Regions from separate parts of the Homo sapiens genome. Here region 2 is linked to region 1. Evidence: fine-mapped expression QTL. A gene starts in region 1. The other region holds a variant in brackets. All regions are shown on one strand. Distances are from middle to middle. Region 1 holds the start of ST8SIA2 (ST8 alpha-N-acetyl-neuraminide alpha-2,8-sialyltransferase 2). Region 2 overlaps ST8SIA2 (ST8 alpha-N-acetyl-neuraminide alpha-2,8-sialyltransferase 2).

What was found. PIP is the estimated chance that this variant, and not a neighbour inherited with it, causes the effect.
Region 2: its variant is the best candidate, but not a certain one, in a credible set for the expression of ST8SIA2 in subcutaneous fat (GTEx, PIP 0.59).

The regions. Positions count from the first base shown.
Region 1 is chr15:92,390,879-92,396,245 of GRCh38, forward strand. ST8SIA2 (ST8 alpha-N-acetyl-neuraminide alpha-2,8-sialyltransferase 2) reads left to right here and starts at 3,003. Exons shown (of 6, transcript NM_006011.4): 1 at 3,003-3,284. The coding sequence starts at 3,187.
Region 2 is chr15:92,414,726-92,420,092 of GRCh38, forward strand. The region is part of intron 1 of ST8SIA2 (ST8 alpha-N-acetyl-neuraminide alpha-2,8-sialyltransferase 2); the gene reads left to right. It also overlaps the pseudogene LOC124903615. Among named protein-coding and RNA genes, the nearest start is that of ST8SIA2, 24 kb to the left of the region's middle. The variant G/A (reference allele first, on the strand shown) is at 3,042.

The sequences.
Region 1 (5,367 bases):
TCAATGACTTAGTCTACAGAAGTGATGGCTGTAGGACCTTCGGGCTTCTTGGAAAATCCAAGGCAGGAAAAGAGACTTGCTTAAACAGAGGGGTAAGCAGGAGGGGAGGGGTCAGGGTGGCCAAGCCAAGCACATGCCCATGTGGCAGTTCACATCACCAGTCTGACATTCTCCACCAATCTCATCAGTCTTCCTCTTTCCAGATTCCAGGAACAAACTCATTTTTGCAGAGGCAGCAACGGGTGGTGTATGTACACAATCACTTGTTAAAGGAGCTGGCCCAACGAGACCCAAACCTAAGTGATCACAGATAGCAGGTATTCTATAGTCAACGATCACAAGGGTCCCCCATCACCCTCCAAGAAAAATCCCACTTCAGTGACTCTCATCGCAAGGACAGCGTCTATGTGAGGAAGCTAGCTCTACTTCCGAGCAGGTATACTTGAGAGATATTGCTCTGTGGGTCTGATTACAGGGATCTCTCTATATGGAATCGAACCATTCAACAAAAGCTTCCACTGTTTCCTGTCCACTCATATGACTCTGGTCTGGTGGGTGCAAAGAAGGAAGACTGAGCCTGGGATGAGAACATGGGCCACCTAACAGGAAACGGAAATAGATTCTGCTGTAATCGTGGGTCACCTAACAGGAAATGGAAATAGACTCTGTTGTAATTGTGCTTGCAGCAATGAGGTTGACCCGACCTGGTGAATTTAGTACCACGGCAACACTTCCATGATGTTCTGCATGGTAAGAGTGCAGTAGGTAGAGAAGCAGAGAAGCAGAGAACAGAGGAGAGAAAGGTCAGTTTCTTCTTGCTCTTTTGGGGGATCTTATTAATCAATTATAAGTGAGCCAGGAGACCTTAGGTCTACTGCAGCTCAAATCCCCTATCATAATTAGACACCTGAATGTCTGTCTCCCTTGTGAACAGTGAGCCACTAGAGGGCAGGAAACCCGAGGTGTCTCTCTCCACTTGGTGTCTCTAGCTCCTAGCACAGAGCCTGGTACAAGGTAGGTTAAATATTGCTGCACGTTGGAGTGAGTGGAGGAGCGATTCAAATACAGAGCAGCATACCAGGCGCATCCTGTACTTTCCTCTCCCTATTCAGGTATCCCAACCATTCCCTTCAGAAAAACAAGGCAAAATGATGACAAAAACCACTCCACACCTCCTAAACCACCCTTCAAGCAAGACAAAGGGAAAGATTTTGGCATTTTGAAAACTTGAAATAAGGATGGTTAGACCCCGTGCCAGCCACACTGATGGGAAACTCTCCTTTGACGTCTCATCCCTGCCTCTAACAGACAGGGAGAGTGACGTCCAACATTGTTCTCCACATCAGAAAAACCTCACCCCAAGAAAAATACATGGTATTTTCGAAGTGCTTACTGTAAAAGGAGCAGGGTGCGCTGACTTCGCCAAGGAATGGGAAGGAAATGAAGCGCTGAGGTGGGAATTAGTACACGCTTCCTCTGGGGAAAAGACATCTGCTCCTGGCACTCCTCAAAGGAGGTGAGGCAGAGCTCTCCCTTGACGCTGTGCTGCTTCCCTAATCCATTCTCCAGGCTGGGTGATGGGACCTCTTCCTGCAGGGGAGAGCCTGCCCTGGCTCCCAGGGTCAACAAGGGCAGCAGCCCCCGGCTTGGAAGCCTCCCTCCTGCCCCTCCTTACACACGAAGGGGCAGAAGGGCTCTGGGCACAAGCAGTACTTTGGTAGAAAATCAGAAGGCCCTCTTACATCCCCGGGGGCGCCATGAAGGGACTTGGCTGCTGCCAGCCCCTCGCCAAACTCCTCTGAGTGGTCCAGGGGATAAGGCCGACACGCCCCTCCCATTCACTGGGGTGTGGTTTCCAGCACTTAGGACATTCCATGTAGCTTCTCCAACAGGACTCCTCCTCCCCACACTCAAACCCAAAGGACCCTTTCATAAACCAGATGATCATTTCTGGAAAGTTACATTTCTTAATTTCAGGAATTGTTCCAATTCGTGCAAAGAAAATAAAAGGTAATTATCTAATTCCAGTAAAACTTAATGGGGCCCTTCCCACCCCTGGCCAATGGTTGGTGTGAAATGTAATTTGACTTAAACTGTCTAAGGCTGTGAAAGTGTACAATATTCGGAAGGGTGGGGGGCATTACCCCTTGTGGGAGCCATATTTTTCTAGAAGGCATTTTGATCAAGACAGGCCTCCCGCGGTTATTGATCTTAGGGTCATTGAGAGTCCAAGAACTGGGGAGATGAAGGCCACCCGGCGTCAGCACCGCGAGGGCGGAGGGAAGGCGGGCGCTGAGTCTCCCATTGGGGTTCTAGCCGAGGGTTCCAGCCAGGACTGCGTGATCTGGGGGCAGCTCGGAGAGCTCTCCCGACCCAGTATCGGGTCTATAAATGGAGATAAAGATCAGCACCTGGAGGGAGTGGTTTCTCGAGGGCTGAGAGCCTCGCCCACAAACTGTAGTCAGCATCTTCACTGAAGTTGGCCTGTCTTGGATATTTCTTCTCTCCTCCCCTTCCCCCACCTCCCCTCCTAATTCATCAACTGCTGAAACATCTGCCTGGCTGAAACCGCCTTCTCGCCGCGCGCTGGGGGCTGTCCCCAGGTGTTGGTCTTTGTGTCGAGAAAACTTTGCGAGGAGGCGAGGGAGCTGGACAAAGAGCGGGCGAGGGAGGGCGTTTGCCAGCCTGAGGGGTGCGCCGGGCGGTGCGCGCACTTCCCTGGGCTCAGCTCCGTACCCGGTCGCTCGCGGTGGCCAGAGCCCAGTCTCTCTAGGCCAGGAGTGGCGTCCGGCTGCATCCCCGCGCCCTCGGGAGCTGAATAAAGCCAGGCGGGAGAAGCAAAGGCTAGCGCCTGGACGCTGGAGTTGGTGGGAGGAGGCGAGCAGAGGCGCGGAGCAAAGCTGTCAAACTGCGCGCGGAGCCGGGCGCGGGGCGGGGGAAGGGAGAGGAGGGAGGGAGGGGCAGGCGGGAGCCGGGAGGGAGCGAGCGGGCTCGCCGCGCCTGAGCAACCCCTGCCTGTCGCTGCCGCTGCCGCTGCCGCTGCCGCCGCCGGCCCGGACTCGTCCGGAGCGCAGGGTGTCTGCCCAGCTGCGCGCGGCGCGCGGAGGCTCCGGCGTCCGCCGCTGCGCCCTCCGGCCCCTGCTCCTCGCGCCGGCCCGCGTGGGTCCCGGCGGGCGCGAACCCACCATGCAGCTGCAGTTCCGGAGCTGGATGCTGGCCGCGCTCACGCTGCTCGTGGTCTTCCTCATCTTCGCAGACATCTCAGAGATCGAAGAAGAAATCGGGTAAATAGCTGCTCCCAGGCCCGTGCCACGAGCCCTGGCGGGATCTCTCCCTCCTTCTGTACTCTCCACCCTCCGACCCCCTTTGTGTGCGCCGCGCCCCGCTGTAGCTCCGCTGGAGAGATGGGGACGGTTTGGCAGAAGGTGGCGGCGACAGGGGCCCGGGACGGTTTGGGGAGAGGAGGGTGGGGGCGCGGCTGCTGTGGGGTGTCCCCGGGCGGGGTTCACGGGAAGCCCCCAGCTGGCCCGCGTCGGGAAGCGGACTCGCCCACCCTGCCCCCCTGCCTGGCGTGTCCAAGCGCAGTGTCGCCGGGGTCGAGGGAGGGCGCCGGGGAGTGTCTCGGGCGGGCGGAGGGGCCGAGAGTGGAGGGAGGCAGGAGTTTCTTTGTCTCCAGCACGGCCGCTTTCTCGCCTTGGCAAAGTGGGCAGGGGGCGCGCAGGGATCTCTGAGCTGGGGGAGGGGTTCCTGGGGCCGGAGCGGAGGGCGGGGTTCTGCATGGGCTACTGGGAAGCGGAATGTCCCCTGCACACACAGACAGGCACACGCGCCTCCCGCCGGCCCGGGAGCCCGGCGTAGGAGCTGGCACCACTAGAGAAGGGCTCGCATAGCTGGACTGAGACCCCCCGCCCTCGCCTGGCTTTGGACGTTCAGCCAAGCCACGGCAACCCCGGCGACCCTGGGTTCCTGTGCGCTCGCAGCGCGGAGACGGAGACATTTCGGGAAAGTCTGTACCGCCGCCCGGTGGGCTTCTGGGCCCTCAGGCGGGCGATCTGGCGCTTTTTTTCTCCCGACCTCGCCAGAGGTAGGGTGGGACCGCGAGCCCGGATCCTCCCGGCTCCGGACTTCCTGGAGTGCGCACTTGAGGCGCGGGACGCACCGGCTGTGTGTCCCAGGGGCTGAGACTCGCGCCCCGCCCCGCAGCCTTCGGCTCGCCGGGCCGGGCCCCTCTCCGGAACCTCCAAAGGGCGGTAGACGACAGGTGGGGAGGCAGCCGGGGTTCTGAGGAGGCCCGAGGAGAGCTTCCTGGCCCTGGGCAAGGGGAAGGTGAGGTCTCAAAGAGGGCAGAAGGTCTCTTCTTCTGTGGGATTTGTGCTCTGCCAGGCGCTCTTCTCGAGTCCCGCGCCGCGTGCGCCCCTCCTTTGTCCCATTTGTTACTTCATTTGTTATCTGTGCTAGTTGAGGGTCCGCCACACTGTCAGTCCCTCAAATGGGAGATGCCAGTCCTGGGCCCAGGCGGGATGCCGAGGCCCCAAGGACAAAAACTTGTGACAAGTGCCGCTTCCTGCTCTCATTTTCTCCCTGCCCCTGCCCATCTCCCTGGAATTCCTTCTGTGAACTCCGCTGGGCTTCCAGAACCCCTCTCCCTGCCTCTTTCTCCTCTCATTCTCGGTTTCCCCAAGAGCTCTGAAAACTTTCACAAATGCTGCGCAGTTAATACACAACGTGCCACCAATTCCCACGCAGAGATAAACATGCTACTTTTCATAGCTGCTCGCCTCAGAAACGTGGATTGGAAAGGAAATCGGGCAAGTCACGTCTTGGGGTAATGGAAGATGCGGTGAGGAGGGCCTTCCTCTAGGCTCTCCGGCTTCTGATTCCGGATGTGGGCACTGCCCGGCTCAGATCACTTGCTGACCTTTGCCCATGTGAGAGGGAAGGCCCGGCGCTGCCCATTGTCCTGTTATAAAAACATAAGTGCTGTGCTTATCCAGGCACCCCTAGGTCAGCCATTCACTGAATTCTTACCAAATACCTTCCACATGCTGGGAACTTTTAATTTTTAAAATGCAATCAGGAGATCACTTTGCACATAATGTTGCACTTTCTTGCCAAATGCACGGTGAAGCCTACGCTCCCCACATCAGGTTGTTCCCATATATGTACGCACCCCGGGGACTTGTCTCACTTGAGTGCTCCCTGCTTCTTTTTATCCTGTCTCTGCTGGGCCAATCCTAGGAAAAAACGGTCAAACAAGTACGATGTGTCACCTCCTGTGGCATCTTCCTTCCCTCTCTTGCCTCTCGTCCCAGGCTGACCACTGGCTTGACCAGTCCTGACCAGGCCTAAGACACCCTCTCTCCCAGG
Region 2 (5,367 bases), 24 kb after region 1:
CATCCAGTCACCTGATTCTAGCATCAAGCTGGTCACATCCCTGGGGCCACCATCCTCTCTATGACCCGTCACCACCCCACCCGTACCCACCACAAGCTATCGTGGCATTAGTTGGACGCAGCCATTTCCCATGCCCTAAGTCAACATGGCTGGAGTTAATTTCTTCCACCCTGAACACATATTTGGGCTTTCCCCTAGCCAATCAGGAAGTGGCTCACAGGGAGGACCCAAGAGGCAGAACCTCTCCTCCGCCCCCTTTCCTCCCCAGAGCCCTGGGCTCCTAAAAGAGCATGGCTGGGAAAAGTGGGGACGGAGGTCATGGCTGATGCCTGAAGACACCTGGGGCTGTTACCCTTCCAGAGGCCAGGGCTGGCTTCCTCTTCCTATTCTATCTGTTGGTCCTCAGCAAGCCCAGGAAGCAGCCTCATCAAGTGTCTTAGGAAGCATAGAACTCCTGAATTTCCTTCTCCTAAGCTTTTGTTTCTGAACATTACAGGGAGAAAATGACCATGCCCCTGGGTGTTCCTCCTACTGCTTCTGCTTGATTTTATCAATAAGGATCTGGTCAGCTGAGACTGAGAAGAGGCAAGAAACTAGCACCTCTGCCATTTCCTTAGGGCCTGCAGTCCTAATGTACCTGGCACGGGAGGGGTTTCTGAGTCAGGGAAGTTTGTGGAGAAAGTGACATGAGCTGAATTTTGCTAATTGATAGGACGAGTCTAGGGATCTTAAACCCAAATGCCTTTAGGGTCCAGGCAAGTCACAGATATAAGTGATGACGCTCAGTGTAAGACAGTAGGGAGTAGTGTGGGCTGTAGAAAAATGTAGCATATACACCCCCCACCCCGCCCCCACAACAAGAGGACACAGATACTTCCCAACTCCAGCAATGACTATGGTTCACTGTTACCAGATCTTCTGACTGTTTAGAAGGAGCCAGAAATGAGGATATTTTATAACGACTAGTCTCTTGAGTTTTAAACAGTAGCCTCTGATTTTAAAAAGGTCGAACATGCAAGCCCCTGAACACATGTTTAGGCTAGATATGACCCAGGGCTGGCAGTGTATAAACTCTGAAGTCAGCAAATGAAAAATAGAACAAGGGATTCCAGAGAGAGGGCACGATATTTAAAGACACAGGCTTGTGAACTGAGTCACGCATTCCAGAAACTGCCCCTTGGTAGGAGGTGGATGTGTGGAAAAGAAGATGAGGCTGAAGGGGCAGTTCAGAAAGGGTCTCTGTGCCATGCTAAGGGATCTGAACCTCATTCTGAAAGCTGCAGGGGTCGGTAAGAGAGACTGAAGAGTTTAAAGGAGAGAGAGGCATGTGGCACACTGCATTTCGGAAAGCTGTGTCTGTGTAGGGAGGGCTGGCAGATCAGCAGTCTCTGCACATCGCAGATAAGACGGAGGCACAGGAGAGATTCATGGCAGAGGGATGAGGGCACTGGCACTCACCCTCAGGTGGACGAGCTCAAATCTGGAGGCTGGGGGACACTTGAAGGGGGGGTGGGGGTGTGGTGAGGGAGAGTGGGGAGTGTGGACATCACCCTGGTTCTGAATGAACTAGGGGTGGCTGCCATTCCCTGAGAGGACACCGGGAGAGACAGGTGGAAGGGGTGGAGGTGGGTGGGAGGTGTGTGGAGGCAGCCAGGTTGTGCTGTGACTGGAGCCGGGAGTGAGGTGTCCAGAGGCAGATCAGACACCGAGGGACAATGGAAGCAGGGTTTGGAAAACCGGCGCGTGCAAAGGGCACACTCACACCAACCCCAGCATCCTGAGGGGCTGGGAAAGAGAAGGTCAAAGAAAACCCGGAGAAAGTGTTGCCAGAGGATGAAGGAGGCGGGAAGTCTATGGCCTAAGGGGTACTTCAGGGTCATGCTCAGGTCACTGACAGAGCAGAGAGAACGTGCCGTTGGACCCGCTCCAGGAGACATGGGGACATACTGCAAGGGTCTCCCTGCCAGGGTCCCGTCGGGATTCAGTCCTGCACAGCCCCGTGGATTGTGGGCAGGCCTTGCCCACCTCCTGGCCATGTGATCTTCGGATGTGCCTCTTGTGCTGAAGAAAAAAAAATGCACATGTCCACTCCCCAGCAGGCCCCGCTCTGAACGGGCCCCCAGCACTCCATCCATGAAAGCTGCAGGGGCAACAGCAGGTGCCTGTTCTACCACGCTAGCACGCTCCACTTTCTCTCCTCCACTGATTCTTATTTCTCCCTAATGGACTGCACTCTTCAAAACCAACTTACCCAAGGACAGCTTTTCCAAGGGGACTTGTCAAACTCCACAGGCAGCAACTGGTTTGTTCCTTTCCAAAGGGCAGTAGCCATCACCTTCAACAATACTGCAACTAACATCCACCTCTGTCCAGTCCTTCTTATTTTAATCCTACAGCAGGAACCCCAATTGACAGAGGAGGACATCAAAACTGAGAGAGGTCTAGGGCTGCAAAACTAGAACCCATCAGGAACCAGAACTCCAGTCCCCTCTGCCGGTGGTCCCATCCATCCTCCTTCCATCTGACACCAAGGCTTCCTGAGTGGTAACCACCATGGCTGCTGGAGCAGAGGAAGTGGCCGTTGCCTTAGAACCAGGCAGGTGGGGAAGGGGACACATCAAATACCCAGAAGAAAAGTGACTTCAAAGTCCTCCCCAAATTGAGTGCCCTCCAGAAATTCTCTCACGAAGAGGCTGCAGCTGACATTCACAGGGATGTTGTGTCTGAATGCGGGTACATCAGGAAGGGAACAAAAGAGAGGGAAGAAAGCCTGGTTGAAGGCAGGGGTCTTTCAAGTCCCCTCGAGGCAGACTCAAGAGCAAAGCATGGCACACTGGATGGGCGTTCTGCTTCTCTTTAAAGAGCATGGATTTATCCATACCATGTGACATGAATGAAATGAGGAGTTTTCAGGGCTGCCAACCTCTTGGTTAAGGTTCTGTGTAGTATATTTCTCCTACAATAGAAAAGGAAAAATGACATCTGAGGTTAACAATGTATCTGCAGTGCAAGGCCCAGTGACTGTCAATAATGGACGCTGA[G/A]TAACTAAGCAATGGCGGATTGCATGAATTTTCATATAAAACTGCTCCTATACATCGCTTTGAGTGTCTGGGTCACGCCTTATCCTTATAGTGTAATGTGAGCGGAGAGTCTAGCTTGAATATTTTCCCACTTAGCTAACTTGCCATCTCACAACTATTTGCTGAGTAACCCTTGCTTCCTCTTAATTCTCTGGGGCCTCCTCGACATATATTTAGGCAGGAGGTGAAGGGCAGGACGCAGGGGGCCACTTTCTGCAGGCATAGGAGGTTGGGCTTCATGCAGACCACAATCAAATCCTTGCTCTGCTGCTTTGCTTGCTGGGTGGCCCTGGGCAAATCACTTAACCTTTTTGAGCCTGGGTGTCCTATTTCCAAAACCAAGTCAGAAATAAGAAAGTTACTATGGGCCTGGCATGGTGGCTCACGCCTATAATCCCAGCAGTTTGGGAGGCTGAGCCCAGAAGATCACTTGAGCCCAGGAGATCAACACCAACCTGAGCAACATGGCAAAACCCAAACTCTACTAAAAATAACAAACAAAAAAAAAATATGGGGCATGGTGGCACACGCCTGTAGTCTCAGCTACTTGGGAGGCTGAGGTGGGAGAATCAGCTGAGCCCGGGAAGTCGAGGCTATGGTGAGCCATGATCACGCCACTGCACTCTAGTCTGGGCGACAGGAGTGAGACCCTCCCTCAAAAAAAAAAAAAAAAAAAAAGGCTTCGGTAGAGTGCCTGGCACATGGAGGGGCTCAAGGGAATGAAGTTCTTAATATTTTTAATTGATGTCTTGGAATCTGCATCCATGTCTAAGGAAGAGACAGGCAAGAGAATTTTTGTCCTGTCTGGGACAAGAATGATCATTTGGGATGGTGGAGGCATCACTCTTACAGAGTGAACTTTGATTGAGGGGGAGAGAAGCTGTTTAGTTTGAAAATATATATGTATATATTCAAACGGTATAGAAAAACTGTAGAAAGTAATGCTGAACAAAATCTTGTTGGGTGTAAATACAGAGAAAAATCACAATTTTTAATTGTGGCACCTCTGCCAGGGGAACAGTAGGATCAAGGAGGAATTTTATGCCATTTTAAATGAAGTCGTAAAGTGTTGTGAGGGGATGACGTAAAATAAAGGATTTTCTGGGCCAGAAGGCTCTTAAAGATGCCCTGGGGACTCTAACCCATCCCTTCATTTGGGATCCTTTGTCATGTCTCTTAGCCGCAGCATGTTTCCTCCAGGGGGTGCCCAAGGGGACATTTGCCTCCCCACTCCCAGAGAGAAGGTCTCTCCGGGGCCACGTGTGAGCCAGGCAGAAGGTGGGAACCAGACCCAGGGAGCCCCAGTTCACCTCTCCAGGAAGGAGGGAGTGGCCACCCTCATCCAACACCGATGCGGTTCCAGCCATCTGGGGGCTGAAGAATGTCATTGCAAGGTGGCCATATCAGAGCTCTCTTGGTACAGGGACAGGAACACAAACCAGGCAGGCTCAGAAGAAGCAGGGGGTGGAGTGAGGAAACAGAGACAACTAGTGTAGACGGACCTGAGAAAGTTTGCAAAGAGCTGGCGAGAGAGAAATCGCTGAGGGGAATATGGACTTCTCTGAATCCTGTTTTCTACAGGAGAGGGTCATCTTCGGTGATTTGGGCTCATCTCTCCATTGAGTGGTCCTCTCTAGAACACACTGGGTGTGCGGGAAATACACCCTCCCACAGCAACGCAGAGATGAGCAGGACCCGCATCCTGTGCCTGGCCATGGTCTGGGGAGGGGGTGCTGAAGCCGAACGCATAGAGATAATGGTGGCTGAATATAGGGGGCACCCTTCTGCAGGTATGTCCAGGACGCCGAGGCAGGGTGAGAGGCCCAGGCTCGTTGTATAGTAGGGAGCTCCAAAATTGGGATGGGGGAACCAGCAAAGGCTCTATAGCCATGAGCACCATAGAGAAGTAGTCCTCTCTGCCCACAACTTTTCACTAGGTCCAGTTCAACCAACAGCATACATATATGTATTGCCCTGGGTTTTAATTGCTTTGGTTTCTGGGATTTTGAGTGTTAAGGATTTCAGAATGCAGCATTATCTTAGAAGTCTGTTTTTTGTTGTTGCTTTGTTTGTTTCTTTGAGATAGAGTCTCGCTCTGTCGCCAGGCTGGAGTGCAGTGGCGCGATCTCGGCTCACTGCAACCTCCGCCTCCTGAGTTCAAGCGATTCTCCTGCCTCAGCCTCCGGAGTAGCTAGGATTACAGGCGTGCACCACCACGCCCAGCTAATTTTTTGTATTTTGATTAGAGACGGGGTTTCACCATGTTGGCCAGGATGGTCTCGATCTA